Homo sapiens: one gene and its partners. The protein of the gene in region 3 purifies or fractionates together with the protein of the main gene of each other region. This does not show direct contact. Each region holds a gene or a part of one and is shown on either strand. Other genes may lie near its edges.

Evidence for each region.
Region 1: the proteins of RAB9B (region 3) and CHM purify together in Homo sapiens (affinity purification with mass spectrometry; 3 studies listed by BioGRID and IntAct, with this or other methods). This does not show direct contact.
Region 2: the proteins of RAB9B (region 3) and RABGGTA purify together in Homo sapiens (affinity purification with mass spectrometry; 3 studies listed by BioGRID and IntAct, with this or other methods). This does not show direct contact.
Region 4: the proteins of RAB9B (region 3) and PHACTR4 purify together in Homo sapiens (affinity purification with mass spectrometry; 3 studies listed by BioGRID and IntAct, with this or other methods). This does not show direct contact.

The regions. Positions count from the first base shown.
Region 1 is NC_000023.11:86,043,953-86,052,852, forward strand, and holds the start of CHM (rab proteins geranylgeranyltransferase component A 1), read right to left. Parts: upstream 3,607-8,900; 5' UTR 3,581-3,606; coding exon 3,532-3,580; intron 3,377-3,531; exon of another isoform or gene 3,159-3,376; intron 1-3,158. UniProt on the Homo sapiens protein: Substrate-binding subunit of the Rab geranylgeranyltransferase (GGTase) complex.
Region 2 is NC_000014.9:24,263,257-24,268,694, forward strand, and holds the end of RABGGTA (geranylgeranyl transferase type-2 subunit alpha), read right to left. Parts: intron 5,364-5,438; coding exon 5,258-5,363; intron 5,165-5,257; coding exon 5,113-5,164; intron 4,943-5,112; coding exon 4,854-4,942; intron 4,703-4,853; coding exon 4,614-4,702; intron 4,521-4,613; coding exon 4,404-4,520; intron 3,634-4,403; coding exon 3,520-3,633; intron 3,262-3,519; coding exon 3,174-3,261; intron 2,508-3,173; coding exon 2,359-2,507; 3' UTR 2,282-2,358; downstream 1-2,281. UniProt on the Homo sapiens protein: Catalyzes the transfer of a geranylgeranyl moiety from geranylgeranyl diphosphate to both cysteines of Rab proteins with the C-terminal sequence -XXCC, -XCXC and -CCXX, such as RAB1A, RAB3A, RAB5A and RAB7A.
Region 3 is NC_000023.11:103,828,552-103,837,619, forward strand, and holds the start of RAB9B (ras-related protein Rab-9B), read right to left. Parts: upstream 3,707-9,068; 5' UTR 3,509-3,706; intron 1-3,508. UniProt on the Homo sapiens protein: The small GTPases Rab are key regulators of intracellular membrane trafficking, from the formation of transport vesicles to their fusion with membranes.
Region 4 is NC_000001.11:28,469,405-28,478,282, reverse strand, and holds part of PHACTR4 (phosphatase and actin regulator 4), read right to left. Parts: intron 4,730-8,878; coding exon 4,132-4,729; intron 2,177-4,131; coding exon 1,992-2,176; intron 1-1,991. UniProt on the Homo sapiens protein: Regulator of protein phosphatase 1 (PP1) required for neural tube and optic fissure closure, and enteric neural crest cell (ENCCs) migration during development.

The DNA of each region.
Region 1 (8,900 bases), about 18 Mb from region 3:
AGCTAACCTACTCTGCAGCCCATCTTAGGGGAAGAACTCCAAAAGATGTGAGCAGTGTGCTTTTAAAAAGAAAAAATGCAGGCTGAATGTCTACATGGTCTTCAAAAAGAAAGAAGGATGCAATGAAAAGCCTACATTGTCTTAAGAACAGCTTTGGGGATATGACTGTTAGGAAGGCCAGAACGTTCCTGAGAATAGGCAATACAGTAAACTTCACAAGGGAAGGGACTAGGTTCTCAGTAAATGTGGGTTGAATGACCTGAAAAATGAGTATTTGTCACTACACTAAATGTTATCAGGCCTTTGTGATGTTTGATGTAAGTTTGCATTTTAGGTGTTTTTCTCTTCCCTTTCCTATACAAACTGTCATTTGTATGTCTAATAGCAACCCCACCAAACATAGTCTTTGCAGAAGTTGATAACATTCCTTGTATCTTCTAAGGGGGTGGTTCTAATATGCTGAGCTTGCTAGAATTATTTTTAAAATGAGGATGAATATGTTCTAAGTGATGATCTCAGGGATTCCCCTATGTATGAAGCATGTCAATATTATCATATAGATCTTATAACTTCCATCTTGACTGCTCTTCTGTTGAGTTCTTGGCTCTGCTGTGCTGCAGATTACACAGGCTTCCAGATAAGTCACCTCCAGTGAGATGTAATGTTACTGGGACGACTTTTAACGTTCAACCAATGGTACTTGTCTATAATCCACAAAACTGTCATTTAAATGACTTTTTAAATGGCAAAATACCCTGAAAATGACAATTCTGTACCCAAGCTGAAGAGCACCTTCTAGACCCTTACCACATATATCTATTTTTATCCTCTCCCTTGAGACTCCAGTTGGCCCTCCTTCTTTATTCCATTTTCTTCTATTTTTTCCGCAATTCCACTTTAGCTTACTCTTCTGTCTTTGGATGTTCAAGAGATATTTACTGTATTTTCTAATCAGAAGGAAATGGGCTTAACTAAGAAAATACAAAGTTTATTTTTTTCCATAATCTCTCGAAAATATGATCTTAAGGAACAATTTCCATCTTGCATTACAGAAAATGATAATGCAAGTTAATCAAGGTGAAAGGGATTATAAAATATTATCTTCCATGATTATACTTGATGAAGCAATTGTTCCTTTATGACATTTTAACTAGGACTAAATCTGCTAAAAAGTATATCTAATAGCCTATTTCTTCATGTTTCTGATGCATGCATTATTGCTTCTACTTTTATTAATACAACTGAATCTATGAAACACTGCTTTTTCTATGATTTGCTCAATGTAATACATTTAATAAAGCAAACATTTTAAAGGCTACTTTCAGCAAACTATTTCACAAGAGAAATATCCCAAGCACACTAAAAAATAAATCAAATTAAATCATGATTGGAATTGTTGGAATCATTTATTTGGGGAATGACTCTTTTATTCAATTTTTACACTTTTGATGTACCTAAAAGCAAAATTACATATCATAAATTTAAGCAATGTGCTTGATAAAACCTAGAATGTGTCACCAATAAACAATATGAAAAATTTAAGTTTTAAGATTAACTTCAAATAAGTTCTTCCCAAACACTGAAAAATAACATTGCACTCACTGGGATAAGTATAAAATGAGTATTTTTCCAAATATAAGCGATGTCACCTGATGCAATTCTCTGGCTCACTCACTGTAACTTCCTACCTCTACCATAACAGACTCCATCAGGATGGATGTCTTCCAATTCTGAACTGTACAGAAGGCAAAATATTTATGAAAAACATTAGCATCATTCATAAGAATTAACATTCATCAATTAAAATTTGAACCCAGACCTGAAAAAAAAAATTGTTGATTAAAAAAATTGTTAAAAACACCTCAAGTTCCTACACAAAAAAAGCAAGATTATAAAACTCAAGTATGGTATAACAACTATTCCAAAATGGATGCTGTTCTCAGTTTTAGTATAGACTTAAAAGAAAAAATGAATAGTCCATTGGCTCTTTCCAGCTCTCATCCAACATCTGTTCATAGCAGCTACAACCAGGTTATTTGCAGCCATGCAGTTATTTTCAGGCTAAGAATAAACCTGTCCATGCTGTTCTGAGAACTGTTACCCAGGCATTTTTTGTTAGACAACATAAAGACCATCTATTTTACCTTCCTTATATTCAAAAACAAGGAAACTGAGGCTCAGAGAGATTTAGTGCCTGGCCCTCCCAATTCAAGCAATTCATACTAGCACTAAGCAAGACCTAAAACCAAGTTTTCTCAATTGTTTCTACGAATATGGGTCAACTCTGAGGATCAGAACCACTGACTGTTTTCCTGGGATGGAATGGGCCTTTGGAAATTTACCAGCTGTGTGATCCTGAGCAAATTACAACTTTTCCAAGTCCCCTTTTCCTCTTCTACAAAATGCAGAGAGTACCTACTACTCTAACAAGGTTGTGAGGATTATGTTCGGCTTGTAAAGTGCTTAGCACAGTGATTAGGAAATTTTAAGCATTCGAAAACAGGTAGCTATTATTTTTACTCCCAACCTGAAAACATGGCTGCTCCTAATCATGGCTGTATGAGAAGACAACGAACTGAATTCATTAACACAATGGACAGGGTCCCATCCACCAGAGCTTCTCTGGCCTACCACATTCTACAAACAGTAAAAAACCCCATCAAACAACCTATTTCATTCCATCTAAAATGATCATCCCTTACACTATTAAAAAAAATTGAAATTGCTGCCATATGTGTTCTGCTACGTGTTGTACACTGAATATGTCAACTAGAAACTGCAGAGGAGTTTCTGGTTCCACCCAAAACATGAAGAACAAACGACGGGAAAACAAGAGTTAGATAAGGTCACACACCTGAACTGGAACTCAGGACCTTATTCTCAGCACATTTAGTTATTGATGGTAGAAAGCAAGATGCTTTAAGCACCATAAAGCAGGAATAATGGCTACCTCAACAAAATAAAATTCCCTAGGTTTCTCAACAAAATAGAATCCGTTTACTTTCCCTAGTAAATTCATACGCACATGGGCAATAATTGAGCATCTTTCTTGTAAAACTGAGGATTAAGCTGTGTCTGAGCTGCGATGTATGCTAAGATCATACAAATCTATGAAAAAGTCCTATGAAATGGCGAGACAAAATGATGGGGAATATCACCTTGAAATCAATAAGGAAGGAATCATAATGTCTTGCCAAAGTCGTCTCCGTTGATAAAATCCCGACCCTCCATTTCATGACACTGCACATCCACTTCCCTCTAAGGAAATTAACAGGAATCACCGCAGCAACCAACCTCAGCAATCAGCATCGACCAGATCAACCCCTACTCAAATGGCGATAAGCACTGCGGGTCCCAGCCCCTCCCTGTAACTGCCAACTCCCGCGCTGACTCCGGACTACCTCACTTCCTTTCAGTTCTCCCTCCCACTCTCGACCCACGATGTTTGTCCCAAAACTCGCCACTGACAGAAAAAACAGAAACAAGACAGTCTTCCTAAACTTTGTCCAGGAAGCACCAGGCTACACATACCCGTCCCTATTACGATCACATCAAACTCCGAAGGGAGAGTATCCGCCATCTTGACGGGAAACGTGTCATGTGACTATTACTTGTGGAAATGAGATCAAGTTAGGCATTCCCTCCGTGGAAGGCGGAAAAGAAAACAGTGCATTCTGGGTGTTGTAGTTCTTGGGTGGAAGGTCCAGGCAGGCGACTACAGTATTATATTTAAAATGTTTACACGTAAGTTAAAAGCTCGACTCATTTTCCAGGCTGAATGCTGTAGCTCATTTAGCCTGGAGGGTTGAAGTAGGAAAGAAATGTAGATTTTTATTCCGTTAGCTAGGATGAATGTGGGAGACTTGGATACCCCTTGACAATACTGAAGCAAAATTGTTAGGAGACACGGAGAGCGGAGTGAAATTGAAGGCGGTTTGCTCTGTGAACAAAGGAGACTTTCATTCCAGCCTAAAAAACTGTTTCCCGCCATCGTTTCTGTACTTTCGTGTTGGCCCTCGAGGCATGGTTTTTCACACCAATACTTTCAGAATATATTCCATATCTTTTTCGTTTCCATGTCTCCTCGATGAAAACCCACAAAAAACCTCTCACCCTAGTTTCGCCAGAATGGAACTCCCACCGCGTCCGTATTTGTTCCAGTTAGTCCAGACAGCCACTCGGGCAATAAATTAGCCTTGCTTTACAGGAGGGAAAAAATATATGAAAGCATGGTTGCGCTGGATAAGCGTCTGTTGAGTCTGAATTCGATTTTCCGCACCAACTAGATAAGTTCATGTAAGATTCTCCTTAGTTTACATTTAGTTTCCAATCTATTAGTTTCCATAAGCTACCGTAGAAATAATTAAGGTAAAATGGTCTTTATATTAAAGTGATTGTATCTGATGAGGGGCTTTAGGTCGTCTATGTCTAACAGCTAACATAGCTCTCATAAGTATCTTCAAGGTCTGTCGCCTCCCACCGCTTCCCTCCAACCGCCCCCCACCCTGCCCCCGATTATTTAATACTCCGCTGTCTGACAACACCAAAGCAAAAGGGGAAGGATGCTGGGAATGAAGGAGGATACTTTTTTGACGACAGAAATTTCTTGTGTAGTTATTTTACAAGAGTTTCAAAATAAATCAAAGATAATGTGCAGTAGTGGGCCTTCCCTGACACCACCTATCCGCTAAGATGCTTGTGGTTCCCCAGACATTGTTTTCTTTCCAGTCTCTGACCACGCTCATGCTGTTCTTTCAGCATGGAATGATCTTCCCATTCTCTAGCTAACAGTTATTCCCAGGATGTCGCTGGGCTTCCACCTCCTCCTCCTTTCGTCTCCGTGTGTGGGCTGTTTCCCTACATGGTGCTAGACTTTGTCTTAACCCGCCATACTGCATTTATGACGATTCCTATAGAGTACACATATCCCCATATATCCACACAAAAATACACACCCAGACATGCAATACCATAATTATAAACCCCTGTACAGCATGACAGACACCAAGTCTCATTTATCTTTTTCACTCCTGCACCTAACCTAAGCCCGGTGCATAGTAGGAATTTAATAAATGTTTGCTAAACCAAACTTGATTTTGACTCCCCTAATAGATGGATGAGACGAGTCCCTGTCCTCATAGTGCTTACCATCTTTGCCTTTATATCTGCCCACCACTATCATGTGTCTTATATTTAGAAGATGTTCAGTGTCCATTAATTGTAAATATTTACATGAAAATGCTTTAAAATGTATTTTGATACGCTTTTTACTGCATTTCTCTTGCATTTTACCATAATCATTAGCAACATTGTACATGTTTCATTACTTTCTTTTATAGATCATCCAGTTGTATTACACAACTCTCTTAAGATATGGTCTTTGATTAGTATTTTCTGTAAAACAGATTCCCCTGAGAAGTATAATGTACTGTTCAGTAAACCACTTTGTCATTTGCCTTGGTATGTAAAGCAAGTTTTTAGTATTATCAGAAGTGAAACAGATATTATTTGTGAGACTCTTGATAAGACAGTAGAAAATGGAAACAAATGGATTTCTCAGAGTAAACACAGAAAACTTTCCAAAATCTTCTCTAATAATGAGAAGCCACAGATGGATGGTTAAAAACCTGATAAATAAAAGTATTTCTACCATACTTTGGATATATATTTATATACATTTGTTCATGTATACGAGATATATAAACTACATACATATACTTTTCAATATGAGTATCACTGACCTTCTAGGGATTCAGAAATTTTCTGACAATCACACCATGAAGATGCAATTCATTAATTTGTTTATTCCTCAAATATTCATTCAGCACCTACTATGTGCAAGACACTATTTTGGATGCTGAGATTAGAGCAATGAACAAAACAGACAACAACCCCTGTCTTCATGAAGTTTACATTTAGTAGGGTAAAACAAAATAAACAAGTAATTACTCTGTAGCATAGATTTTCCAATCTGTGCTGCCCTTAGTTTGAAACCTTCTTTTTTTCCCCTAAGGATAGAAAGCACAATCCTCAGAAGGATAATATTACCAACTTATATTTTGCTGTTCTTTCTCTAAAGTTATTATGGGACTTATTCATGCCCTTTTCTGGGCATGGAAAAGATTACTACATTAGGAAAATTTCAATCTTGTGCATGGAGAAAATGCTCCAAATACCTTTTATTTCAAATGTATTTTTGTAGACTTTATGCAAAGTAAAGATGAATATAGGAGTTAATAATTGCAGTAAAAAAAGCGTAAAGCAAAACAGCTGAATTGCATCTATTCTGTTATTCTAAGGACATCTTTTTTTTTTTTTTTTTTTTTTTTTGAGACGGAGTCTCTCTCTGTCGCCCAGGCTGGAGTGCAGTGGCGCCATCTCCGCTCACTGCAAGCTCCGCCTCCCGGGTTCACGCCATTCTCCTGCCTCAGCCTCCCGAGTTGCGGGGACTACAGGCGCCCGCCACCACACACGGCTAATTTTTTGTATTTTTAGTAGAGACGGGGTTTCACCATGTTAGCCAAGATGGTCTCCATCTCCTGACCTCGTGATCCGCCCGCCTTGACCTCCCAAAGTGCTGGGATTACAGGCGTGAGCCACCCCACTGGGCCAAAGACTATGTACATTGGAGATAGTCATCTTGCATAATATGTCTCAGAGATTCTCTGAATTTCTTGAATTTGCATGTCGACCTCTCTTGCAAGGTTGGGGAATTTTTCATGTATTATATCCTGAAATATGTTTTTCAACTTGCTTACTGTCACTTCTTTTCTCTCAGGAATGCCAATGAGTTGTAGGTTTGATCATTTTACATAATCCCATATCTCTCCGAGGCTTCATTCATTTTTTGAAACTCCTTTTTCTTTTTCTTTGTCTGTGTAGGTTGATTAGAATAACCAGTCTTCAAGCACCAAAATTCTTTCCTCTGCTTTGTCTAGTCTGTTGTTAAGGCATTCAACTGTATTTTGAAATTCCTATAGTGAATTTTCCAATTTCAGAAGTTCAGTTTGGTTATTTATTAATATGACTGCTTCATCTGTCAAGTCTTGGATCGTTTTTCTGGCTTCCTTGGATTGAATTTCAAGGATGCTTACTGAGCATCCTTGACATCCAGTTTCTGAATTCTTTGTCTCATTTCAGACATTTCAATTGAAAAGAGATTCTTAGAAAATAGTTGTGTTTGTATGAATGTGTATCTCTTAACACTATGAAAAATAAGCAATAATAATTCAGGAAGTAGATTATTACATCTTATTATAAGTTCCAGACTTATAAAGAATTTTTTTCAATTCAGAACTAGTATTAAAGCTAATTTTGAATTAAAAAATGTGTCTCCAAGCCTGTAGTTGTAGTGGTGGTAAAAATTTACCAGTACCAATACTCTGGACAATAAAACAGAGCTAAAAGTAAAGAAAGTCCAGTCTACTGGAGAATATCCTCAAATTACATGAACTAGTGCTGTTGTGAGTATACAACCCCCTTGAGGAGTTTCACAATATATCCAGATGAAGTTAACTTAAAGTTTTCCATTTCAAATGTGTATAAATACTATTCTATCATACCATTTTTGTTTATAAAATTGAGGTCTTTGAGTTCATGTTCAATTCCATCTTTAAAAGATAATCAATGTCATGACAGCAATTATTTCCATATATTAGAAATATTTTTTAAGTGTTAGTTTTAGTAACAAAATGATTATTTGTACTAACTATTGTATTTGTCAGCTTCTTCAATACAGAAATATTCAGAACACATTTACATTTTTCATAGTCCCTGCAAAACAAAACAAAACGAAACAAAACAAAGAGGCTGAATAATTTTGTGGGAATTTCATCAACCTTTATAGAAAGTCTTGCTATTCTTCTTTTAGCTGTTTAATTGTAATGTCATAGTAACAGAAAGCAGCATACCCAATTTTGCATGGATGAATAAACACATTCAATAAGGAAGATTTAACAGAGTAAATCAAACACTGGATTAAACATTTTCTGCATAACAGACCACAAAATGGGCATTCATTTTACCAATGGATCCTTGGCATTAGAAGCAAATAGAAGTGCATACCAACATAATTAAACTGAATATTCAGTGGCCTGATTGCAAAGTTTCCCAATATTTTATCAAACGATCTTCCAGTTAATTAAAATTGCCTATACATATTCAAGCACACACATAGAAAAGATTAAGTATAGATACTACTCATTTAAATTTATAATTCAATAGATTAACTTGTTTTCTTCTATTTTTTATCCCCAAAGTTTGAATATAGTAAATCTTCAGTATGATCGCACAAATGAAAAGTTCAAACACATTGAAATTGGCAATATTGTGTTGTTTTGCATTTAATTGTATTTAATTTTTCATTTTTGATATAAGAATATTATTTAAAGACATATTTTAATCTCCAAGGGTGAGCTATTTCCACTAAATTTGCTGACAAAACTTCACCCCAGAATTTATTACATGGCTATTCATAGTCAAATTTTAAAATAGTTTACTATTTTTGTACAAGTAGTTTCTCCTATTATTTATGTCTTATTATTTCAGTTTGTTTTTACTGTAATGTTTTATTTCAATGCAAAAGCATTTTTACATTTATTTTTATCAAGAAATGGCTGAATAACCCAAGATTCAGGGCTTTCTATTCTCTCTAATCCTCAGAAATAATGTTTTATTAATTCTATATATGACTCAAAGCATTAAGAATAAGAAGAACCACTTCATATTTGGACTAACTTTGTGATAATTTTGAATATAATGAGGTCACTTCAACTGTATTTTTTATTCTACATAGGTATTAAATAGGAGTTTGTAAAGAAATAGATGACATGCCTACTAAAAACAGGGATTGTCTCTGTATTTCTGTAATATCAATGTCTACCATTGCCACAATACCTTCT
Region 2 (5,438 bases), on a different chromosome or scaffold from region 3:
GGCCTCTGGGCGGGAAATGGGGAGAAGATGCTAGGGAGGGAGCAGGGGTGAGGTCTGGGGGCTTAGGCTGGGCTTTGGTGGGAGCCACCGCTGTGATGGCCCCTGGCACCAGGCTGATTCCTACCAGACTGGGCATGTGAGGAGCCCCTTCTCCCGGATGAAGAAGCTGCAAGGGCAGTGGGGCAGGCAGGCCCTTCCACCCACAGCCCTGTCTGGCCGACCTTCTGGTCCCAAGCTTAGGCTGCCTACCTCTGCTCTCACAGGCTCCTGCTGCCGAGTTCTGTGCAGCCCAAGCCAGGCTCAGCCCTATGAAATTGGCCCAGGGGCCTGGTCCTGGAACTCATCCTGCCCAGGGAGGTCCTGGGATCCCAGGTTGCAGACTGGTGACATCAGCAGCCAGGCCCTCAGACTGGCTCCACCAGCTAACCCCTGACCTGCTGGCTCTACCAGATATTCTGACTCCCTCCACCCCCAAGTCTGTCCCTTCTTTCTCAGCTGCTCTACAGCCCCAGGCATGAGTGAGCTGCCCTCAAGTTTGGGATTAGGGAGATCAGAGTAGGAGCAATCTCATTTCACGTCCCCCACCCCCGCTGTAGCCTCGGGGGTTAGGGGATGTTTAGGCCTTTCCACTCAGGCTTGGGTGGGAACTGAGTCCCCCTTCCAGGGGTACAGAGTACCTTTCTCTCACTGAGAGGAGTCTCTGCTCAGTTGGACTAGAGGATTCCCTTTTCTCCAACCTGGAATTCTTCCTGGGAATCCAGACCAACCGGCTCAGGCACCTGTGCTGTGTGCATCCTTACTCCACCCCGTCACTGGGGAAACACTGAGGATGGCACCAAGGCGATCCCAAGGTAGAGAGGAGGAGGCTAGGCATCTTCAGGGAGGCTCTCCTTGGGTCTTGTCCTCAGGCCCGTCAGCCAGGGCCTTCTTCCTTCTTTCCTTCCTTCCCACTAGTGTCCCAGCTCTGCCCATGGGCCGCCTAGCAGAAGACAGTAAAAACAGGCCGACAAGAAGACACAAGGAAACAGAATCCAGGAGGGGCTGTTTGGTGATGCATCAGGCAGGGAGGTGCCGTGGGGAGTGGGGACAGAGAGGCCCCAGGAACTGGCAGGGAGCCCTCCACACCCACACTGCCTTTTCTTGTCCAGCTCCAAGCACCAGAACCTGCCCGGGGGTGGGGGCAGGTGCCCCACCTCCAACACCCTCAGTAGACACACCAGTGGATATAAACTTCCAGGCAGGTCAGCCAGAGGGCTTTGTGCAGGGGCTGCGGATTTGTGCATCACTGCAGATACGGGAAGGGGCAGGGCCCTGGCTGTCCGGACGTGTGTGAGCACATGTGGGCCCAGGCAGATCCCAGAGAACCAGTAGGATGCCTTTGTCACACTCTCTCCCTAGCTTTAATCAATCTTTCTCTCCCCACCCAGCCAGGTTTGAGTCAGTGCCCTAACCCCTGAGCCAGTCCCCTCCCCCCACCACCACTCAGGACTCTCTAGGTCAGGACAAGGTGTGTACATGGTATGTGTGGGGGGACACCATGGGAGCAGACACTCAGCTCAGGACCTCAAGGAGCTGAGGCCAGGCCGCTGCCCAACCATTCCTTAGCAATACAGAAGCAAGAACATGAGTCTAGAATCCTAGACCAAGGGTAGAGACAACTTTGGTTTCAGTGCTGAAGCGCTCCGGCCAAGAACCTTGGGCAAGTCTCAACAGCAGTTTCCTCATCAGTACACTGGGCCTAAAAATCTCATCCCTGAGACTCTGTGAGGATCAAATGGTATCAAGTATTCTCAAAGGTACTTCAACCGTAGAATGCTACTCATGGGGACCGATAGTGTTGTTCAGGCAGGACGGAGCAAGGACACCCTGGCCCATTCCTGGGAACGTGGAGCCCTTGAGCCTCCCCAGCTATGGTGAATGGGGGCCAGGGCAGGGGGAACATGTGGAAGGTGCAGGGGTCATGGGAAAAAATTGTATGATGCTTCCAGCTGGAGAAACTCACAGCTGCTCTGTAGCTTACCAGAGCCAGAACCTGAGCCCAAGCCCTATTCCTGCTTGGAATCTAGACCCAGTCCCAGCCCCCACCCCAAACCAGAAGGTAAACAAAAGCTCAGCCTTCACCCTGAATTCTGCCCCAAACACTGAAGCCTTGGCTCTCTCTGAGAGGAAACAATAGGATGGCGCAGAAAGAAGGAGCTGGCAACACCCCATGTCTCTTCCCTTTCTTTTCAAAAAATAAAAGTGATGAAGGTGGTGGTGTAGTGATAGCAGCGACAACAGCTTGGTAGCCTGAGAGGGCCTCTCCATTCTTTATTCAGTCCCAATAAGTTAAAGGGCAAGGGTAGGGGGCAGGGCCTCTTAGGTGAGGACGCTGCTAACTGAAGGCAGCAGTTCAGCCAGTTGCTCCAAGATGCCCACCGCTTGGCACAGCGGGTTACCCTGCAGGTTGAGGAGGACCAGCCTGGGGCAGGAGGCAAGAGGCTGGAGCACTGCAGGCTGCTGGAGGCCTTGTTCAGGAGAGTCAAGGAAAGCTTGGCAGGTTCCTCCCAATTTATTTGCTCCTGTGTACCCTCAAGAGCTGGGGACTGCTGCCTGGAAGTCTGTTTGATGGGCATCTCATATGCTCCCTGGAGGGAGTCAGGCTCTAGGCAGGGACTGCAAATGCCTACCCACAGGGTCAGCCAGGAAAGAATGAGCCGCAACACCCCACGCAAGCTGGTGTAGTATCAGGGGAGTGGTGCAGGGTATGATAAGGTGGAAATCTAGCCTGGTCCAAAGAGACATTTACTATTCAGCAATGACCAAGGGCTGCTGAGTGAAAATACCAGTGTAAGGTTGCTCTAACTTCCAATTTTTAAGAGAGGAATTAGAACTCTAGATGTTTTTTAAAGTATGAAAGTTCCTGATTTTCAAAAAACTACATAGACCTGAAGAACAGCTGCGGGCTGCCCATTTGTGAACTCTGACTTGAGGAAGTCCACTCCGCACAACTCCACCAGTGCAGGTCAGTGATAGCCCGACAGCCCCAGGCTCTCCCCCTTCAACTCACACTACAGAGCCCCCTCTCTCCTGCCCTGCAAGAGGGTGGCACATACCCTGCCTGCTGTCTGTCCCTTCCCAGGGTGGCACCTCACTTTACCCACTGTCTGAAAGGCACCCAGAAGGAAGGATACGGTTGTTGCACAGTAGCAGCTCCTGCAGCCGGGGTAGGTTGGTGACGCCGTCCAGGGACTCTATGGCATTATCACTGGCCTGCAGCACCTGGGGGCAGGGAGGGCAGGGAGGCAGGACAGGCGCTGTCAGCCAGGGATGGTTCAGCAACTGAGGAGCTCAGGGTGACGGGTCCACAGAGCACAGAGGGGCTCACAGGGTCAGGCTGCGTGATGGAGGTGGAAGGCACGCAGTTACCTGTTCGGGGTGGAGGGTCCTGCACATCTCCTTGTAGGATGGGCAGACTTCTGAGGGAGAGGAAGAGGAAAAGAACCACCCGTGACAGGGACGGAGACATGGGTACTTTACCTCAAGGCAGCGCAGGGCAGCCAGTGCAGGTGGCAGGGTTCGGAGGCGATTGTGTGACAAGTCAAGATGGGTGACCAAGAGCAGCTGTTCCAGATGGCAGAGCACTGTCAGATCCTGGGGGGTGAAGGGAGGAAGGAGGTGATGGGCTTCCCAGGAGACCTGGGAGAGGGTCCTCGGCCAGCATTTATTAGGCACATGCCCTCTGTGCCCCACAGGCCCTTGGGGACCCCAGCCAAGAAGAGGATGGGAGCATGTGGGAAGCTGACCTTACAGCCCACAGCAGTACATGACGTGGGACAGACAGTGCTGCGAGTGGGGTAACCAGTGGGGTGGGTGAGGAGGAGGAGGCCTGGAGTTCGGAGGTACAGGGGCCAGTGGAGGGTGCTGGGTAAACAAAGACTGGTCCCCCATGGGGACTGGTCCTGATGAGGCAGAGATGAGTTTGGCAGGAATGGAGGTGGGCTGTGGTGATGTGATAAAACTAATGTGTTGGGAAGGACTAGGAAAGTGGAGCCTGGACAACTTCTCAGGAATCTCTGGAAAGTATTTGGCCTTCAGGTATTGGAGGTTGCTCCAGGGTGAGATGTGCTGGAATGTGTGGGAGGAGTGGGCTAGCGGTCACTCTGAAGGAAGATGAAGCTGTGACCAGCCTGGGGAAGAAACAGCACAAGGAGGTCCTGGTGACTCGGGATTTGAAAGTGAGTGGCAAGAAGAAGAATGGGCTGAGTGACAGAAAGGCCTGGAAGAGGAGCAAGCTGGGAGGCAGGGATGAACTCTATCTTGATTGGAAGTCCACAAAGGCACCTGAGACTGGGGGCAAAGTCAGGGACGTGGGGAGGCCAGCGGGATGAGGGCCAGGGGAAGGCATGCATGGCAGCCCATACCTTGTGAGCCAGGTGCAGCACACGCACCTCGGCATACTCCATCTTGAGCACGCTATTCTCCAGCAAGAACTTGCTGCGCAGGTCATCCAGATACGTTGCCCGCATGGGGTCCACGGCCTGGAGTGGATGAGGTGGGCAGGGTATGCATGTCAGCTGCCTGCCTCCTGCCTGCTGGGCCTCCCCCTGGTCTGTTCTGCAGACAGAACTTGCCTTGAGGGTCTGGAAGTACTGCAGGGTCTCCTTCTCATACAGCAGGGGGTCCAGTGCCCGCATCAGCAGGATGATGGTAAGCAGGCACCCTGAGGAGAGGGCAGGGAAAAGGAGGGTTTCTCTTGGAACCTCCTCTGCTCCCATCCTCCTGAGGCCTTCCTGCTGTCCTCTCAGGGCCACACTGGAAAGGGGTTTCCTCAGCGGGCTCTGGGAGCAGACTCTCACGGAATGGGGCCTCACATTTATTCTCAGGCTCCAGCTCCTGCAGCTCCTTACAGGATTCCAGCTCAGACTGCAGCACTGTGGACTTCTCCACTGACAGCTCACACCTGAGGGTGGGCAGGGTGGGGAGGAGTTGAGGCCCACAGCCCTGAAGCACTGGTCAACATTCCCAGTATCTAGACTGAAACAGCTCCTTGAGGCCCCAGCCTCCTGCCCTGGCTGCCTGATGCCCAGAGTCCAGAGCCCCTCTCCTTGTTTTGTGCTTCCCTATCACCACCTGAATAGCTGCTCGTCTGTCGTGGAGTCCCGGCACCAGCCCTCCTGGCGGCCTGGGGAAAGAGTAGGTGGTTGGAGGGTGCACCCTTGAGAGGAAAAGAGTGATGGGGGCTGCTGCAAGGGGTGGAGGCTGCAGGTTCCATCACCTTTTAAAAGCACGCATTCTTTCTGGACATCGCCTGCTGTCCAAATGACGCGAAATGTATGTTGGGGCAACTGGTCGTTGAGGGAGGCAGCAGGCAGGTCACAGAGCTGGGAGTACTGGGTCAAGGAAATGCCCCAGCCTAACCACTTTTTTGACTGTCCCACCCAGCCCTGCCCCAGACC
Region 3 (9,068 bases):
AGTATTAAGCGTCCAGGCCACACAAGCTTCCTTGAGTTCCTAGCAAACAGGCGTTCACATCATTAAAAGACTCACTGACCCTATTCTCCCAGTTGCAGATAAACTCAATAGACAGGTCAAGGACTGAGTGAATATGGAAACCAAATGCTCAGCTCCAGGAATAATGATGATGTATTAATAACTGTCTGAGATAATGCTGCAGTTGCTTGTGCATTCCCTATTTGGTTATGTGCACACATAACTTCTGGGCCTATAGGCTCTATGCCAAGGGAAAAAGAGGAAAAGCAATGTGGTTCAGTGTCAAGAGCACTGAGCTAGCTGGCAGTAATCAGGACACCAGGGTCTTCATCACTGTTACACCATTCATTTATTTTATGAACTTGGGCAGGTCATTTAATCTTTCTGTTTCAGTATCTTCTTACATAAAAATAGAGCAGATAATACCTGCCCTACTTAACAGGATTTTGGGGGAGAATGAAAAGCTTATGAAGTTTGCAAAGATTTGTAAGCATTTTTTGAAAAATTTGGTTTGAGATTTTTATTCCTCTGGCTCCTCCACCTCCTTTCATGCACTGGTGGGGGCCTTGTGGCTCAGTATTAACCCTTCTCAGAAAGGGCCTGCTAGTGAAAGTATAAGAATTCTTCCTTTTCTCTTTCTTCCATATTTGAGAATGCCTTGTTCCTCAACAAGCTTGAACATCTGCATATGGCACAGAATCTCAGCATTGAAGGGACCTTCAGGGTCTTCTGGTCCAATCTTGCTACTGATATTTGAGAAAACACTACAGTGCCTATTGTGTGTTGTGTCCTTACTAAGGAAACCCTCCACTCTCCTCTGCTGTCTCCAACTCCCATTTATTTTCTAGAAGTAAAAATGAATACAGTTTAGATTTGTCTCCTTGCCTTCATTCAATCCTGCTGATTTTCCCTTGAAGTATCATTTTCTAGTCCTGTGCTACCATCCTCATTTTGGCCCACAATTTCTCACATCTAATCTATTGTGAAAGTTCTTCTCTCCCTGCTTCTGGTGTCTCCCCACTCAATCTACTTTGCAAAGCTTCATCACTCAAACATCCATTGGATGTAGATACTGTTGGGAATTAATAAATGTTTAAGGCAAGGTCTTGCCCTCAGGGAGTTTACAAATTAACATGCAAGCTCAGGATCTCATTGTTTACAGTTGAAATAATGTCATTATACTGACTTATTTTGTTAACAAACTTTTCCTGTCTTTCTTACATGATCAATTTTAAATTCCTAGATAGTAAGCTCACTGTATACATCTTTGAAGCCCCTTCAGTGTGCAGCACCAGGATCCTCCATGGAGATAATAAATATTTGTTTACCAATTAAATGATTAGGTAGGTGCCCAGAATTAATGCCTCTGAATTGATGCCAAGGTACAATAGATCCATAGTTCTGTAAGATGCCAAAATACTATTATTTATAAGGTAACTAAAGAGCAGAAGTTATGAACTTGACTCGATCATTTTCTGGATGGGGAGTAATGGGAATTCCACCTGTTGAAAGTCAAGGGAAATGCTCCAGTTTTCCTCCCCCTACTCTCACATTTTAAAAATAAGTATATACATTTCCCCATTCCTACCCAAAACAAGAGCAGAATAATGATATCCAGTTGATGTTGTCGGTGGGTGCTGGCCTCTCCACAATCATTTATCATTGTTTGAAAATGAATGTCATGTCCTTTAGTACATACTTAAATTAAAAAGAACTAGCACAGTGTAAAAGCAAATGAAATCATTTTTTCCTCCCCCAGAATATGCCGGATTTAATCCAAACCTTTAAACAAGGTAACATTAAGCAGGCAAATGAATTCTTTGATAACACTAAATACGTAAATAGGAAAGTCAAATGACGTATGCATCCCTTATGGGTCCTCTGTCGGGCGAGCATTTGGACCAAAACGCTTATTCTGATTTTGATCCCATTCAGAGAAAGATCTGACTCTAACTGAGTAAAATATTCGAGAGACGCAATTCCCCTTTCCTACCCCCACAAACTCATTAATGAGCATGCTCTAAGGATAGTTTACTAACTTTTTTTTTTCCCATCAGGGTCTCAGTCTTGGAGAGTAAGGTGAATTAGGAATTTCCATAACCAATACTCCCCAGCTCTTTGTTCTTTAACACACTTGAAACCTTCTGAATCTGCAGTACCCACAAAGCCTTATTCAAATTATTGTATTTAGTTGGGAATGCTTAGAGGTGGGAGTGGAGGTGGGGGAGGAGGCAGTACAATGAAGAAAAAGAAGTTGAACCTTTGAAAATAGTACATTTTAGTATGATGATGGAGAGAAGAGAGGCAGAAAAGCAAATTCGCATCAGTTCAGTTGCCATGGAGTGGAATGATGCTCAAAATCAGTAGTGCAGATTGCTCGGAGGCAAGTCTTGAAAGGGATGTGTACTGCAGGGATCGATAGGGGAAGAGCAACTGGGGAGGGCTAGGCACTGGATGAGAGTGGCACTGTTGGAAGTCTGTACAGGGGAGGAGCCATGGTTGGACCTGTGGGGAAAGCCCATCTTGTGGCGACACACTGGTAAGGGCTACTCAACTCACTGTTGAATGCTGGCACAATAATTGGAAATATTGCACTGAAGAATTGGGCGCGGCTATATTTATGTAAAATTCAACACGGATGAGAAATGATTGAATGTTTGAGTGTGTTTCCAATACAACCCAATACTTGGCGTTGGTGCTGGTGGTGGGTGCTTCGTAGCGCGGAAACCCTCTGACGCACTGGATTCATTTTGCAGAGCTAACAAGTTATCAGCTACATCCATGCCGACTCCAAATGCCACAGCTGTCATGCCACTGAAACGCTATTCCTACATTCATGCCCACATTTATATCCTATATGCAACTCAAAGGGTCCAATGTGGAGTCCCACATCTAACCTTTCACTGCTCACAACGACAGCTCTAGGGCTATAAGCCCAAAGGCACACTAGATAGCAATCTGGCATCGTCCCCAGGACACTTCTTCCTCAGTAGACTGCCCAGGGACAGATAGGTAGATAAGGTTTGGATGACATCAAGCGAGCTGAACACAAGGAAAAAAAGCTTCCTTGGGAGACAAGAATGCTGGCATCTCTACGACAGGGGCACTGTTAGCATTACGGACCTAGAAAGTGAGATGTCACACATAGTCCCAACTACCTCCGACCCAGGTCCTCTCACCTCACCCCCAGCTCTTAGAGCTAGTCGGCTGTGGCGCATGCGCACTGAGCCACACCCGCTCCCCACGGAGCCCTGCGCCTCTCTGCTCGGCTCTGGCAGCAGCTCGGGATTACTCAGCAACGCCCCCCTGCACTGTCACCTGCCCCCGACTCCGACCTCGGGAGCGGCTCAGTCCCTTTTCTCAAGCTACGAGTGGTCCTGGGGATCAACTAGACTTTCCTTTCTCCCTCTTCTCACAGGCCCCCCACCTCCCGGCCTTCCGGGTCCTCCAGCCCCTAGCCCCTGTTCCTGCCCACGCACAGGCACCTTACCCAACACAATGGGAAGGAAACAGGAGAGGGCCGCGGGTGCCAGGCAGGTCAGCTCTGCGTGCCGGGAATCCGGCTCCTTAGAGTCACCGTCACTGCTCCTGCTGCCTCCTCGTCCTCAATGGGGCAGCAAGTGCGGCTTGGACCTCGGTGGCCTGACAGCTGCCGCTCGCGCCCGCCGCTGCCGCCGCGCAGCGTCTCGAGCCCGCGCCCGCGCCCGCCAGGGGAGGGGGCGGGGCCCGCGCCGCCTCCTCGTGCCCCTTTCTCGGCGGTGGGGACCCGGTGTAGCCGCCTCCCGCCCTCCATGTGGCAAGCGCTCCCTGGCTCGCCCACTCTTCTTTCATGCTCATCGTCCAACCCTGGTCTCCCTTGTCCTCCTTCTCCTCCCCTAGCCGATTAGTAGGCACAGCGGCAATAGACCGTCAAATATTGCTCTTCCACTTAGCTCCTCTGCAGCCTGGGCCTAAGCCCTCAAGCAGGGCTAGCCACTGCCCCACTTCCTGCAATTATCCTCTGATCTACCTCATTTATCCTAGCTCAAAATCCTTTAATTTTGCCAAGAGGGTAGTACATACACCCTCTTGTTTCAAATAACTCAGGAAAACACATGATCACAACACATTGCTAGGCCCTCTAACTGGCTACAGCTTATGAAATTTTCAGGCAATTAAAAAAAATGTCCACATCTGTAGCGCAGGCATAGAGGACACACTGCCCTTTACTCTTACCAGATACAGTTCTAGAGGGCCACACAGGGGGCATTACTTGAATTTCCCGGAATTGCTGCTGGGGCAGAATTTGATGTTTTAATTGTGCCTAGCCGACCAGCTAGTCTCTTTTTGTTGTTTTCTGTAGCCCTCTGGTACTTCCAACTAGTTTGTGATTTTCCCCCTGGAATTGAAGAAGGACAAAGCTCCTGAGGTCATTTAGCCTGCACTCCACCTCTCTGTCAGGCAGCTCCATCTCTGAAGCTTCCCCATTGCCCGAAACCCTGTGACCTTGTGGCACAGGCCCTCACTCATCTCATGACCCCGTCCAGGCCCTCACACATACCCGCTACTTCCATCTAGGCCACTCTTCCTCTGTCTCTTGACAAGGCAATCGTGCAATCAATCTCCGCAGGCCCCAGCTTAAATGTCACTTCTCAGGATAACCTTTCTCGATAATCTCAGAATAGAGATGGTGCCCCAGTTTATACTCTTGTAGCCTCCTGTAACTTGCTGTATTTTTCCTTCATAACACTTACCCATTTTTGGTGGTACATTTAAGTGTATGATTATTTGGTTGACAGCTGTCTTCCCTACTAAACTATAGTGGGGAAGGACTATGAGGTCAAGGACAACGTTTGTGTTCACCACCGTATGCACAGAGCCTAGGGCAATGCTTGCTGCATAGGACATGCTCAGAAAATATTTGCTGAATATGAATGAATGCTGTATCACTAATAGTTGTTATATTTAAATAAAATAAATTGATGTAACTGAATCTCATGTGCTCCTATTTAAACCAACCCCGTTCCCCACACATACACTCTAAAACACTCTTCTGATGAAGACGAGATTCACACAATCCTCTAAATCAAATTTTCCGCATACATTTTAGTCTATTAAAAAACTATTGAGCATGGGCCCCAACATATGTATAAGGATTTATAGATTATATACATGTACTACTGTACATGTATACATTACACATTACTTTAAACATACATTTTAATGAGTAAACATTAAAATACTCCACAGAAATTTTAAAAGAATGAGAAAAATAAATATATTGATGTTCCAATGTTTTCTTTTTGCACCTCAATAAATAGTTTTGTGAAATGCTTTAAATAACAGTCCTTCATATTAGAGTAACTCGTCTTTAGGTGTAACAATCTAGACTACTTTTTCATTTTCTCATAGATGCCATTTTCCAACAGTTTAAAAATCTCTGAGAAACCCCCAAACCAACTGGCAAGTTTTAAGGATCTTTTAGTTTCTAAGCTACCTCGTTCTGTAGTCAGGATCTCACAACTGCTGAAAGCACCACACGTTTAGTGAATGTTGGAACACCTAAAGGTAAGAAAAATCCTTTGTTAGACCAAAGATTCCTACATGTAAATCCTATATTAAAAGAGTCTCTAGAGGCCACTTAAAAAGCAGCTACTATTATCTTTCTAGAATGGAAGCAACATGACTAACACTAGTTGTGAGGGATCAGCAAAAATGGACAGCACGAAGATTCAAAGTAACAGCTGTGGATGGTTTTGTGGCTCTCAGATGGGACTATTCCCAATGGTCAATCATTGAGATCTGTCAAATAGTGTCCTTCACACACAATAAAAATTCTATTTTTATAACACAGTTACACACACACACACACACACACAATAGAATCATAGTGTAGTCGGTAGATAGAAGGCCAAACCAAGATTGCGTTTGGATACCAGAGATAGGGTTACCTTCAGAGTCACACACACACACACACACACACACACACATACGCTCTTCAACATTCAATGAACAAGATCTCCCAAAGTCTCATCCTGATCAGTTTGAAATACATTGACCTGAGCTTCAGGAAGACATAATTGTAATGTGATTAATTTAAAAGAACAGCCTGGTCCAGCAGTCACAAGTTGTTATGTACAAGAGGGTTCCGTGAAGCATTCAAATAAGTGTATAAACACTGCATACTATTTCCCTTCCAGAAGAGTCACGTTGCATATTAAAACATTAACGTCTCTTGGAGTCCTGAAGTAAAGAAATCTGTTGTGTTGTTTTTCAATCTTACATTTCCAAAACTTTTGTGAACATGAATTTCTTTTGTTTATGGAACATCTATTAGCAGGACTAGAACAGCTCAGGACCCAATTTAGCAACTACTGTCCTAATCATTAATATTGAACATATTCATAGGCCAACGTATTTGTCATCTTTGTCCTAGAATATTTATGTGGCAACTATACACGTTATATTTTCCAGATAGTCCTGATTTCAAATACTTTGTCCTATTGTCCTAATTTTTACAACAATACTCATGAGATCATCTAATGTTTTATTCAGAAATTATGGCAGTCATAGATATGTAAATAGGAAATTAGTAAGAATTTGTGAACTATTTACCTATCATTGTCCAAGAGCAAGTCACAGTTTCTGGTGATACAATATTTTTTTAAAAAATCATTTGACACAGGGATAATATTATGGAATAGGAATACTTTGCCAGATTTTTCATAGCCTGAAGGAAAGATCTCTTAAGATTATCCAATTATGGAAGGCATCAGTATGAACTCAGTTTAGTCATTTAAAAAAAATTTTTAAGCTCTGTCCACTAAAAATACTTAGAAACAATGAAAATCTCAGTGTCCAAATTCACCTATAGTGCCCATAGGATGGTTCTAAATGCTATTTCCCAATAAAAGGACCCAGGATTACTTAAATAAATGGCTGACTTCAGATATGTGGCAAGAAATATCCAAGATGAACATAAAATATCTTGTCACACCAGATAGCAAGGAAGCTAAAAACATTATTAGAGTTGAGTCAAAAGGACTTGAAGAGGCTGTCATCAGTCAAACACGGGGCAATTTGAGCATCAGTAAAGATAATAACTACAATGAATTGAAATATATCAAATATGTTTAAATATACAAATTCATAAAAACACTTAAAAACATAATTGCTCAATTTGGCCAAACCTAGAAAGCTAGCTCATTATTTTAAAACTGGTAAATAAAGAGAGTGACTCAAACATTTAACCTGCTTTTTTTAAATACAAATTATTCCTTGGTGTAACAAAGGAGTTGGCGAGGAAAGTGTTTTAAAAAGATTCCCAGCTAATAAATTATGAAGGAATGATAAAATTACAACCTTTAATGAATTAGTGGATCTAGGTAATAATAGTTAATGTCTTCTAACATTACAAAAGGAGTGTTAACCATATATCATATGCCTCTTGATGGAAAAACACAGCAGCACATAGAAAGTATTTTTTGTCAAAAAATGCAATTTGAACCCTATCAAGCTCCTAGATATAACTATGAATTTTTAGAAAAATACAAGGAAAAATATGTTAACATTGTAGGGATGTAAGCAACAACATCCAGACTTAGGTTTAGAGTGCAGGTGTGTGTGTGTGTGGTTTAGAGTGCAGGTGTGTGTGTGTGTGTCTGTGTGTTGAGGGGGGAGAAACTGCAGAAAAAAACGTGGTTTCTTCAACAAATAAATTTTAAGAAAGAATACAAAAATGAAAGTTAAAAAGAATGCATTTACAATGACATCAAAGAGAATGAAATATTTAGAAGTAAATTTTAAAAAAGAAGTGCAAAAAAAAGAAGTGCAAAAGTAACACTCTTAAAAACACAAAACTTTGTTGAAAGAAATTAAAAAAGATCTAAATAAACGGAAAGATATCATATGTTTGTGGATTGAAAGACAATATTTATAAGGTGGAAATACTCTTCAAATTGATCTACAGATTCAACGCAATTCCTGTCAGAACCCCAGCTGGCTTCTTTGTAGAAATTTACAAGCTGATCCTAATATTCTTATGGAAACTCAAGGAACCCAGAATAGCCAACACAATCCCGCAAGAGAACTCAGCCTTTTCAATTTCAAAACTTACTACAAAACTACAGTTACCAAAATAGTGTGGTACTGGCATAAGGCTAACATGTAGATCAGTAAAATATAATTGAGAATCCAGAAATAAACACACGTGTCTATGGTCAATTGATTTTCAACAAAGCTGCCAAGGCCATTTAATGGGGAAAGAATAGATTTTTTCAACAAAGTGTGCTGGAATAACAGGATAGCCACATGCAGAAGAATGAAGTGGGACCCTCACCTCACAGCACATACAAAATTAACTAAAAATGGATTATACTATAAAATTGTTAGAAGAAAGCAGTAGTAAGTCTGGTCTTGAGTTAGGCAATGGATTCTTAGATATGACACCAAAAGCAAGGGCAACAAAAGAAAAAATAAATAAATTGGACTTCATGAAAATGAGAAATGTTTGTGCTTCAAAGAACACTATCAGAAATGTAAAAAGACAACTCACAGAATAAGGGAAAATATTTGCAAATAATATACTTGATAAGGAAGTTATCTAGAACATATTTAAAAAAATCTTACAACTCAAAGATAAAAAGATAACCCAATTTAAAAATGAGCAAAGCATCTGAATAGACTTTTCTTCGCAGATGTACAAATGATTAATAAGCACATAAAAAGATGCTCAGCATCATTAATTATAAGGGAAATGCAAATCAAAACCACAATGAGATACCATCTCACACTTATTAGGATGGCTATAAAAATTAGATAATACCAAGTGTTGGTGAGGATGTGGAAGAAATGAAGAGCATAACATTCATACACTGCTGATGGGACTGTAAAAATGCTGCAGCCACTTTGGAAAAGGCTGGCAGTGTCTTAAAAAAGATAAGCACAGAGTTACCTTAAGATCCAGTAATTCCGCTTCCAGTTATATACCCAAGAGAAGTAAAAACATATATCTACACAAAAGCTTTTACATGATTGTTTATTGCAGCGTCATTCATAATGGCCAAAAGGTG
Region 4 (8,878 bases), on a different chromosome or scaffold from region 3:
AAACGTGGTGTATATACACAATTGAAGATTATTCTGCCATGAAAAAGAAAGAAATCCTGTTATGTGCAACAAAATGGATGGAACTGGAGGACAATTACGTTAAGTGAAATAAGCCAGGCACAGAAAGATAAATGTTGTATGTTCTCACTCTTACGTGGGAGCTAAAAAAGTTGATCTCATGGAGGTAATAAATAAAATGGTGGTTACCAGAGGCAGGGAAGGGTAGAGGGGATGGGGGAGAGAGAGACTGGTTAATGGGTATAAAAACAGAATTAGATAGAAGAAATAAGATCTAGGCCGGGCGTGGTGGCTCATGCCTGTAATCGCAGCACTTTGGGAGCTGAGGTGGGCAGATCACTTTGAGCTCACAAGTTCGAGACCAGCCTGGGCAACATGGTGAAACGCTGTCTCTATAAAAAAATACAAAAATGAGCTGGGCGTGGTGGCTCACACCTGTGTTCTCAGCTACTTGGGAGGCTGAGGTTGGAGCATTGCTTGAGCCAGGAAGTGGAGGTTCCATTGAGCTGAGATTGTGCCACTGCACTCTAGCCTGCAGAGTGAGACACTGTCTCAAAAAAAAAGGAATAAGATCTAGTGTTCGGTGGCACAATAGGGTGACTATAGTTAACAATAATTCATTGTATATTTCAAGATAACCAGAAAGGTAGATTTGGAATAATCCCAATACAAACAAATGATAAGTGCTTGAGATGGATAGCCTAATTACCCATACACACATGCTTATATCAAAATATCTCATGTACCCCATAAATATATATTACTATTATATATCTATAAAAATTAAAAATAGGCTAGGCACGGTGGCTCATGCCTGTAATCCTAGAGCTTTGGGAGGTCAAGGCAGGGGGATCACATGAGGTCAGGAGTTCAATAACAGCCTGGGCAGCTGGGCACAGTGGCTCACACCTATAATCTCAGCACTGTGGGAGGTGGGCGGATCACGAGGTCGAGTTCGAGACCAGCCTGGCCAACACAGTGAAGCGCCGCCTCTACTAAAAATAAAAAAAAATTAGCTGGGCCTAGTGGCAGACGCCTGTAATCCCAGCTACTTGGGAGGCTGAGGCAGGAGAATTGCTTGAACCCGGGAGGTGGAGGTTGCAGTGAGTTGAGATCGTGCCCCTGCACTCCAGTCTGGATGACAGAGCAAGACTCTGTCTAAAAAAAAAAAAAAAATTATATATATATCTTTTATGGCCAGGCACGGTGGCTGACACCTATAATCCCAGCACTTTGGGAGGCCGAGGCAGGCAGATCACCTGAGGTCGGGAGTTTGAGACCAGTCTGACCAACATGGTGAAGCCCCATCTCTACTAAAAATACAAAATTAGCCAGGTGTGGTGGCACATGCCTGTAATCCCAGCTACTTGGGAGGCTGAGACAGGAGAATTGCTTGAACCTGGGAGGTGGAGGTTAAACTGAGCCGAGATCGCACCATTGCACTCCAGCCTGGGCAACAAGAGCAAAACTCCGTCTCAAAAAAAAAAAAAAAGAACAGGCTAGGCAACCTAACGAGACCCTGTCTCTACAAAAACAAAAAACAAAACAAAAAATCAAAGAAACCTAACCAGTTGTGGCACACATCTGTCCTAGCTATTTGGGAGGTTGAGGCGTAAGGATCACTTAAGTCCAGGAGTTGGAGGCTACAGTGAGCGACGATTGCACCACTGTACTCCAGCTGGGTGACAGATCAAAACCTTGTCCAAAAAAAAAAAAAAAAATTAAAACAAAAAAAAACAAAAAACCTAAAACCTGAGTGACTCAATCTACTTGGATCCCTGTCTTGGCTTGTTTTAACAGAGGGGTGATAATAGGGACAAGGAGTCCTTCACAGTGGCTTCCAACATCAGTTAGCCAGATGACTTAATGGGAGAAGGTACCTGTTTCCATATCTCTTTTGACACTTGCTAAGATCAGCAAATAGTTTTATCTGGAAAAGAATTCTCTGTTTTGCTTTTCCCTCCCTTTCTTACTCTGATAGCTTTCATCTTCATCTTCTTCATCTCGGTACTGAATGGGACCTTCTGAATCAGAGTCGCTCTCCTTCTCTTCTTCCTCCCGTAGACACTGTGGTAATTTAGGAATGACTGAGGTAGGTGTCATTTCTTCACTGAATGTGGATGGACAGGTTTGCTCCTCTTCTTCTTCATCGTCTGGACTAACAAATTAACATAATTATATTTTCCTTTTAGAAATGAAGAGGATAACTGACTTTTAAGACAAAGGACTGAAATAAAGACTGGGCGTGGTGGCTCATGGCTGTAATCCCAGCACTTTGGGAGATGGAGGTGGGCAAATTCACCTGAGGTCAGGAGTTTGAGACCAGCCTGGCCAACATGGTGAAACCCTGTGTCTACTAAAAATACAAAAATTAGCCTGGCATGGTGGCAGGTGCCTGTAATCCCAGCTACTTGAGAGGCTGAGGCAGGAGAATCTCTTGAACCCAGGAGGCAGAGGTTGAAGTGAACCGAGATTGTGCCACTACATTCCAGCCTGGGTGACAAGAGTGAGATTCTATCTCAAAAAAAAAAAAAAGACAAAGGACTGAAATAACCATAAATACAAAAAAATCTATGGATGAAGTAACTTATAATTAATTCTCTCCCTTAACTTTAACAATCTTACTAAGAAACTTTTTAGCAGGTATTAATCTAAGGGTTCAGATCCCAGCTTTACCACTTATTAGGCACTGGTGCTTTCCAGAATTTGTCTAATGTCATTCTCACAAGCCTACAGAGTAAATATTATTCCCATTTAGAGATGATATAACTAAAGAGCAGAAGGCTTCAGTAACTTAACACTACTATAAGCTAAGAGTGGTAGTGCTGCAATTTGAACCCAGGGCTATCTCACTCCAAGGTGAATGCTCTTAAGCACAACATTATACAATGCCTTCCCTGTAGTATATAAAACTAGCGGTTGTAATTTTTCATGTACATAATTTTGTAAATTTTGTGTCATCACAAAAATCTCCATGAAAAAAAAAAAATCACAAGAGTAAAAAATCAAAATTTGGCCAGGCGCAGTGGCTCACACCCATGATCCCAGCATTCTGGGAGGTTGAGGCAGGCAGACTGCTTGAGCCCAGGAGTTCAGGGTGAGCCTGGGCAACATGGCAAAATCCCATCTCTAACAAAAAATATAAAAATTAGCTGGGTGTGATGGCATGCGCCTGTAGTCACAGTTACTCGGGAGGCTGAGGAGGGAGAATTGCTTGAGCCCAGGAGATGGAGGTTGCAGTGAGCCAAGACTGCACCACTGACTCCAGCTTGAGTGAGAGAGTGAGAACCTGTCTCAAACATAAATAAATAAATAAATAAATAAAAATAAAGTTTTAAGGTAAGATTAAAAAAAGAAAGAGTCCAAATTCTATAACTTATTCTTTTGGCAGAGTATTCTTTGTACTTTAAATTTATTCACAATGCTGGGCGCGGTGGCTCACACTTGCAATCCCAGCACTTTGTGAGACCGATGCAGGTGGATCACCTGAGGTCAGGAGTTCGAGACCAGCCTGGCCAACATGTTGAAACCCCATCTCCACTAAAAATACAAAAATCAGCCGAATGTGGTGGCACATGCCTGTAGTCTCAGCTACTCGGGAGGCTGAGGCAGGAGAATCGCTTGAACCTGGGCGGCAGAGGTTACAGTGAGCGGAGATCGTGCCACTGCACTCCAGCCCGGGTGACAGAGCAGGACTCCATCTCGGAAAAAAAAAAATTATTCACATTTTCTTTTTTTCTGTGAGACAGAGACTCGCTTTGTCGCCCAGGCTGGAGTACAGTGGCACAGTCTTGGCTCACTGCAACCTCCACCTCCCTGTTAAAGCGATTCTCCTGCCTCAGCCTCCCGAGTAGCTGGGATTACAGGTATGTGCCACCACGCCTGGCCAATTTTTGTTATTTTCATCGAGACAGGGTTTTACTGTATTGGCCAGGCTGGTCTTGAACTCCTGACCTCAGGTGATCGGTCCATTTGCCTCAGCTTCCCAAAGTGCTGGGCTTACAGGTGTGGGCCACTAGGCCCGGCCCACATTTTCTTTTTATAAGTAATTTTTTCCAAGCAGGGCTATCTAGAGTAAAGGAGAAATAAGAGGCAAGCTTTAAAGGCACTTACACTTTTAGCATTTCAATAGTGATGGGAAGAGACCTGGTCCGACCCAGCGTACTGCTGTCCTCAGAAAAGCTGTCACTGTTTTCAAAAAGCAACGAATGAGCTCTGTGAGAACCCTCCAGAATAGGAGTCATGGGAAGTGGGCTGGTGAGGGCCTGCTGGATTCGAATATGCAGTGGGAGTGGAGGCAGCCTAGAGGGTATATGGGGCTCCCCAAAGTTCTGGTCCAGTATCCTCTTGGGGACTTCCTTTTTCTGATCTTCCTGCTGGGGAATCTCCTGGTGTAGATCTAAGGATGGTGGAAACTCAATTTCTGGCACAACTTGAAAAGTCTTAGCAGGGAATGGAGGGGTGCGTGGAGGCTCTGGAGGTATATGAGTAGGCAGTGGGGGGGACGGAGAGCGAGGTGAGATCATTGGTAGTAGTTCCGAGCCCATAGAACACGTGCTCTTCTCTCTTTCATCACTTGGTGTTTTTGTGGTGATGGCAGCAGCAGACTCCAAGGTGGGTACTGAGGTTGATGGAATGCCTCTCTTAGGTGGTAAGGGTGGGGACGGTTTTGATAACAATGTACCACTGTTTATTGCTTGGGACAGTTCAGCTGGAAAAGAGAGAGCAACACATCAATTTCACGACTTTCCAATGCTTTGAAGGGCCGGCCCAGGGCCTAGAATTAAAGTTGAGTTCAGTTTTAATCTTTTAAGCAAGTTAAATAATTTCATAGTTTTGCCATTCCCTATATATTTTATCCTGAAATGAAGTTTATATTTATTCAAATAGAAGGCTTAATAAATGTACAGAGGTGTAGGAAGACTGATGAGTAGCTTACTTCATTGCTATGGCAACAGATATGACAATTTTTTTTTTTTTTTTTTTTTTGAGACAGGGTCTCACTCTCTCGCCCAGACTGGAGTGCAGTGGCGCGATCTTGGCTTACCGCAACCTCTGCCTCCCGGGCTCAAGCGATACTCCTGCCTCAGTCTACCAAGTAGCTGAGATTACAGGCGCACGCCACTACGGCCCGGCTAATTTTTGTATTTTTAGTAGAGGCGGGCTTTCACCATGTTGGCCAGGCTGGTCTCGAACTCCTGACCTCAAATGATCCACCTGCCTTGGCCTCTCAAAGTGTTGGGATTACAGGCGTGAGCCATGGCACCCGGCTGACAACTTTTTGTAACTTGATCTTGGTGTAGTTAATATGAATAGAGACAAAAAAAATCTGATAAAAAGTTATCTTGTGGCTGGCACGGTGGCTCACACCTGTAATCCCAATACTTTGGGAGGCCGAGGTGGGCAGATTACTTAGGTCAGGAGTTCGAGACCAGCCTGGCCAACATGGTGAAACCCCGTCTCTACTAAAAAAAAAAAAAAAAAATTACAAAAATTAGCTAGGTGTGGTGGTGGGCACCTATAATCCCAGCTACTCAGGAGAGGCTGAGGCACGAGAATCTCTTGAACCTGGGAGGCGGAGGCTGCAGTGAGTCAAGGTCATGCCACTGCACTCCAGGCTGGACAGCACAAGACTCTGACTCAAAAAAAAAAAAGTTATTTTGTATAACAGTACTCCATTAAAAAATTTAAACATTCAGATAGCATAAAATAAGTATTAGTGGGTATTGTTACCATATCCTGATAATGGTATCTAGATATCTTAGCTCTGTGTTATAAAACTGTCAATACTGACATCTTGAATTTTTATAGCAATTGCAAAGTCCTTTGAAGAAATCAAAGTGTTTTTTGTCCTTGAAGTCATATTCTCCTTATACCACCTGAGGTGACAGGGGAAAAAATATAGCATCTTTACCATTTTTCAGAAGGAAAAGGCAAGGCCACAGAAGCTAGGTGACTTTGCCCAAGATCATACTACAAACTGGCATGGACTCAGCTGGTATCCAAGTCTCTGACTATTTGACTGCATCCTACTGTCTCTAATTTTTTTTTTTTTTTGAGACGGAGTCTTGTCGCCCAGGCTGGAGTGCAGTGGTGCCATCTCGGCTCACTGCAAGCTCTGCCTCCCGGGTTCACACCATTCGCCTGCCTCAGCCTCCCAAGTAGCTGGGACTACAGGCGCCCACCACCACTCCCGGCTAATTTTTTGTGTATTTTTAGTAAAGACGGGGTTTCATCATGTTAGCCAGGATGGTCTCAATCTCCTGACCTCGTGATCCGCCCGCCTCGGCCTCCCAAAGTGCTGGGATTACAGTCGTGAGCCACCGCGCCCGGCCTACTGTCTCTAATTTTTATTGGTATGCACACCTCTTATGTTCCCTTTGCACCTCAGCTTCCCATGTTCACTCTCCACTATATCATGGGCTCCTTGATGGCAGGGCAACCTTGTCTCCATCAACATATCATCCACAGGGCTGTGCACAGTACCTGGCATCTAGTGGACCCTCAATATATGTTTATTAGATGAGAAGCCTTCACCCTGTATCATGACAGTATATATTCCTATAGTTTCACCAAAGCCCACAATGACTCAGCAAAGGTGTTGGTGTTGTTTCAGCAAAGTCCCTTTGGAGGGCTCCAGATGACCTGTAAGAAGTGGATCATCAGATCACACAGGAGTAAAACTGGTAAAGTAATTAAAGGGTAGTTATTTTTTCCCTGCTGACAGGAAAAAAAAAAAAAAAGTAGTTCTTTTGATCACCAACCTCTAACCTTCTACTCAAACCCTTTAGTTTCATCCCACTCAGTATTCTCAAACACTCTCAAAAACTTCCCTTAAATAAAACTGTATTTGTCCTAAATCTCCAAAATTGGAGATGTTCAAAGTAAAAGGCTAGCTAATTATTTTTTTCTTTTTTGAGATGGAGTTTCACTCGTTGCCCAGGCTGGAGTGCAATGGCGCCATCTCGGCTAACTGCAACCTCCACCTCCTGGGTTCAAGTGATTCTCCTACCTCAGCCTCCTGAGTAGCTGGGATTACAGGCATGTGCCACCACGCCCGGCTAATTTTTTGTATTTTTAGTAGAGATGGGGTTTCTCCATGTTGGTCAGGCTGGTCTTGAACTCCCGACCTCAGGTGATCCACCCGCCTCGGCCTCCCAAAGTGCTGGGATTACAGGCATGTCCGCTTTGCCCGGCCAAGGCTAGCTAATTTTATAATTCTTTTTTTTTTTTTCTTTTGAGACAAGGTCTCCCTCTGTTGCCCAGACTGGAGTGCAGTGGCATGAACAATAGCTCACTGCAGCCTCGATCTCCTGGGTTCAAGTGATCCTCTTGCTACAGCCTCCCAAGTAGCTAGGACTACAGGCCCATGCCCCCATGCCTGACTAATTTTTTTAATTTTTAGTAGAGACAAGGTCTCACTATGCTGCCCAGGCTGGTCTTGAGGTCCTGGGCTCCAGTGATACACCTATCTCAGCCTCCCAAAGTGCTGGGATTATGGATGTGAGCCACCACACCCAGCCTCTTTTCTTTTTAAATTTATTTTTATTTTTAAATTAAATTAATTTATTTTAGACAGGGTCTCACACTGTGTCACTGGAGTGCAGTGGCGCAGTCACGGCTCACTGCAATTTTGACCTCCCTGGGCTCAGGTGATCCTCCCACCTCAGCCTCCCAAGTAGCTGGGACCATAGGCATGTGCCACCATGCCCGGCTAATTTTTGGGGGGGGTATTTTTTGTAGAGATGGGTTTCTCCATGTTGCCTAGGCTGGTCTCAAACTCCTGGGCTCAGGTAATCTACCTGCCTCAGCCTCCCAAAGTGTTGGTACTACAGGTGTGAGCCACTGTACCTAGCCTTTTCTTTTTTTTTAGAGACAGGATGTTGCTCTGTTACCCAGGCTAGAGTGCAGTGGTGCAATCATAACTCACTGCAGCCTTGAACTCCTGTGCTTACCCAATCCTCTTACCTCAATCTCCCAAGTAGCTAGAATTACAGGCACATGTCACCATGCCCAGCTAATTTTTAAATATTTTATAGAGATGGGGTCTTGCTACGTTGCTCAGGCTGGTCTTGAACTCCTGGCCTCAAGTGATCTTCCCACCTCGGCCTCCCCAAATGCTGGGATTATAGGCATTGAGCCACTGTGCCTGGCCTAATTTTGTAATGTTTTAATGTCTCTCATCATAAATAATTTTTTTTTTTTTGAGACAGAGTCTCGCTCTGTTGCCTAGGTTGGAGTACAGTGGTGCAATTTTGGCTCACTGCAACCGCCACTTCCCGGGTTCAAGTGATTCTCTCCTGCCTCAGCCTCCTGAGTAGCTGGGATTATAGGCATGCACCATCATACCCAGATCATTTTTTGTATTTTTAGTAGAGATGGGGTTTCACCATGTTGCCCAGGCTGGTCTCAAACTCTGGGCCTCAAGCGATCTGCCCACCTCGGCCTCCCGAAGTGCTGGGATTACAGGCATGAGCCACCATGCCTGGCCCCATAAATAAATTTTAAAAAAGGCTTTCTAGAAAAACACTGCATACACACACAAAAAGATTCTAAAAATGTGAATTTTAGGAGCAGTGAAAGAGATATTTTTGGAAAGATTGGATTTTTGCTGATTCTCTAAAAATAGCTGTTAGCTATTCCATCTACAACAAAACTCATTCCTGATGAGACCATAAATGAATATTTTTACTTTTGAATTAATAAAATAAATTCTATTTGGTAATTTGAGGAAGGCATATATGTTAAGGAAGTAAATTCTGGTATATATACCCTGACAACAGCATCTGGCTGTAGTTCTGTGGAAAAATTTCAGAGTGTTTCTGGGATGGGTAATAATTCCCTTTCACCCGTTCAGCTA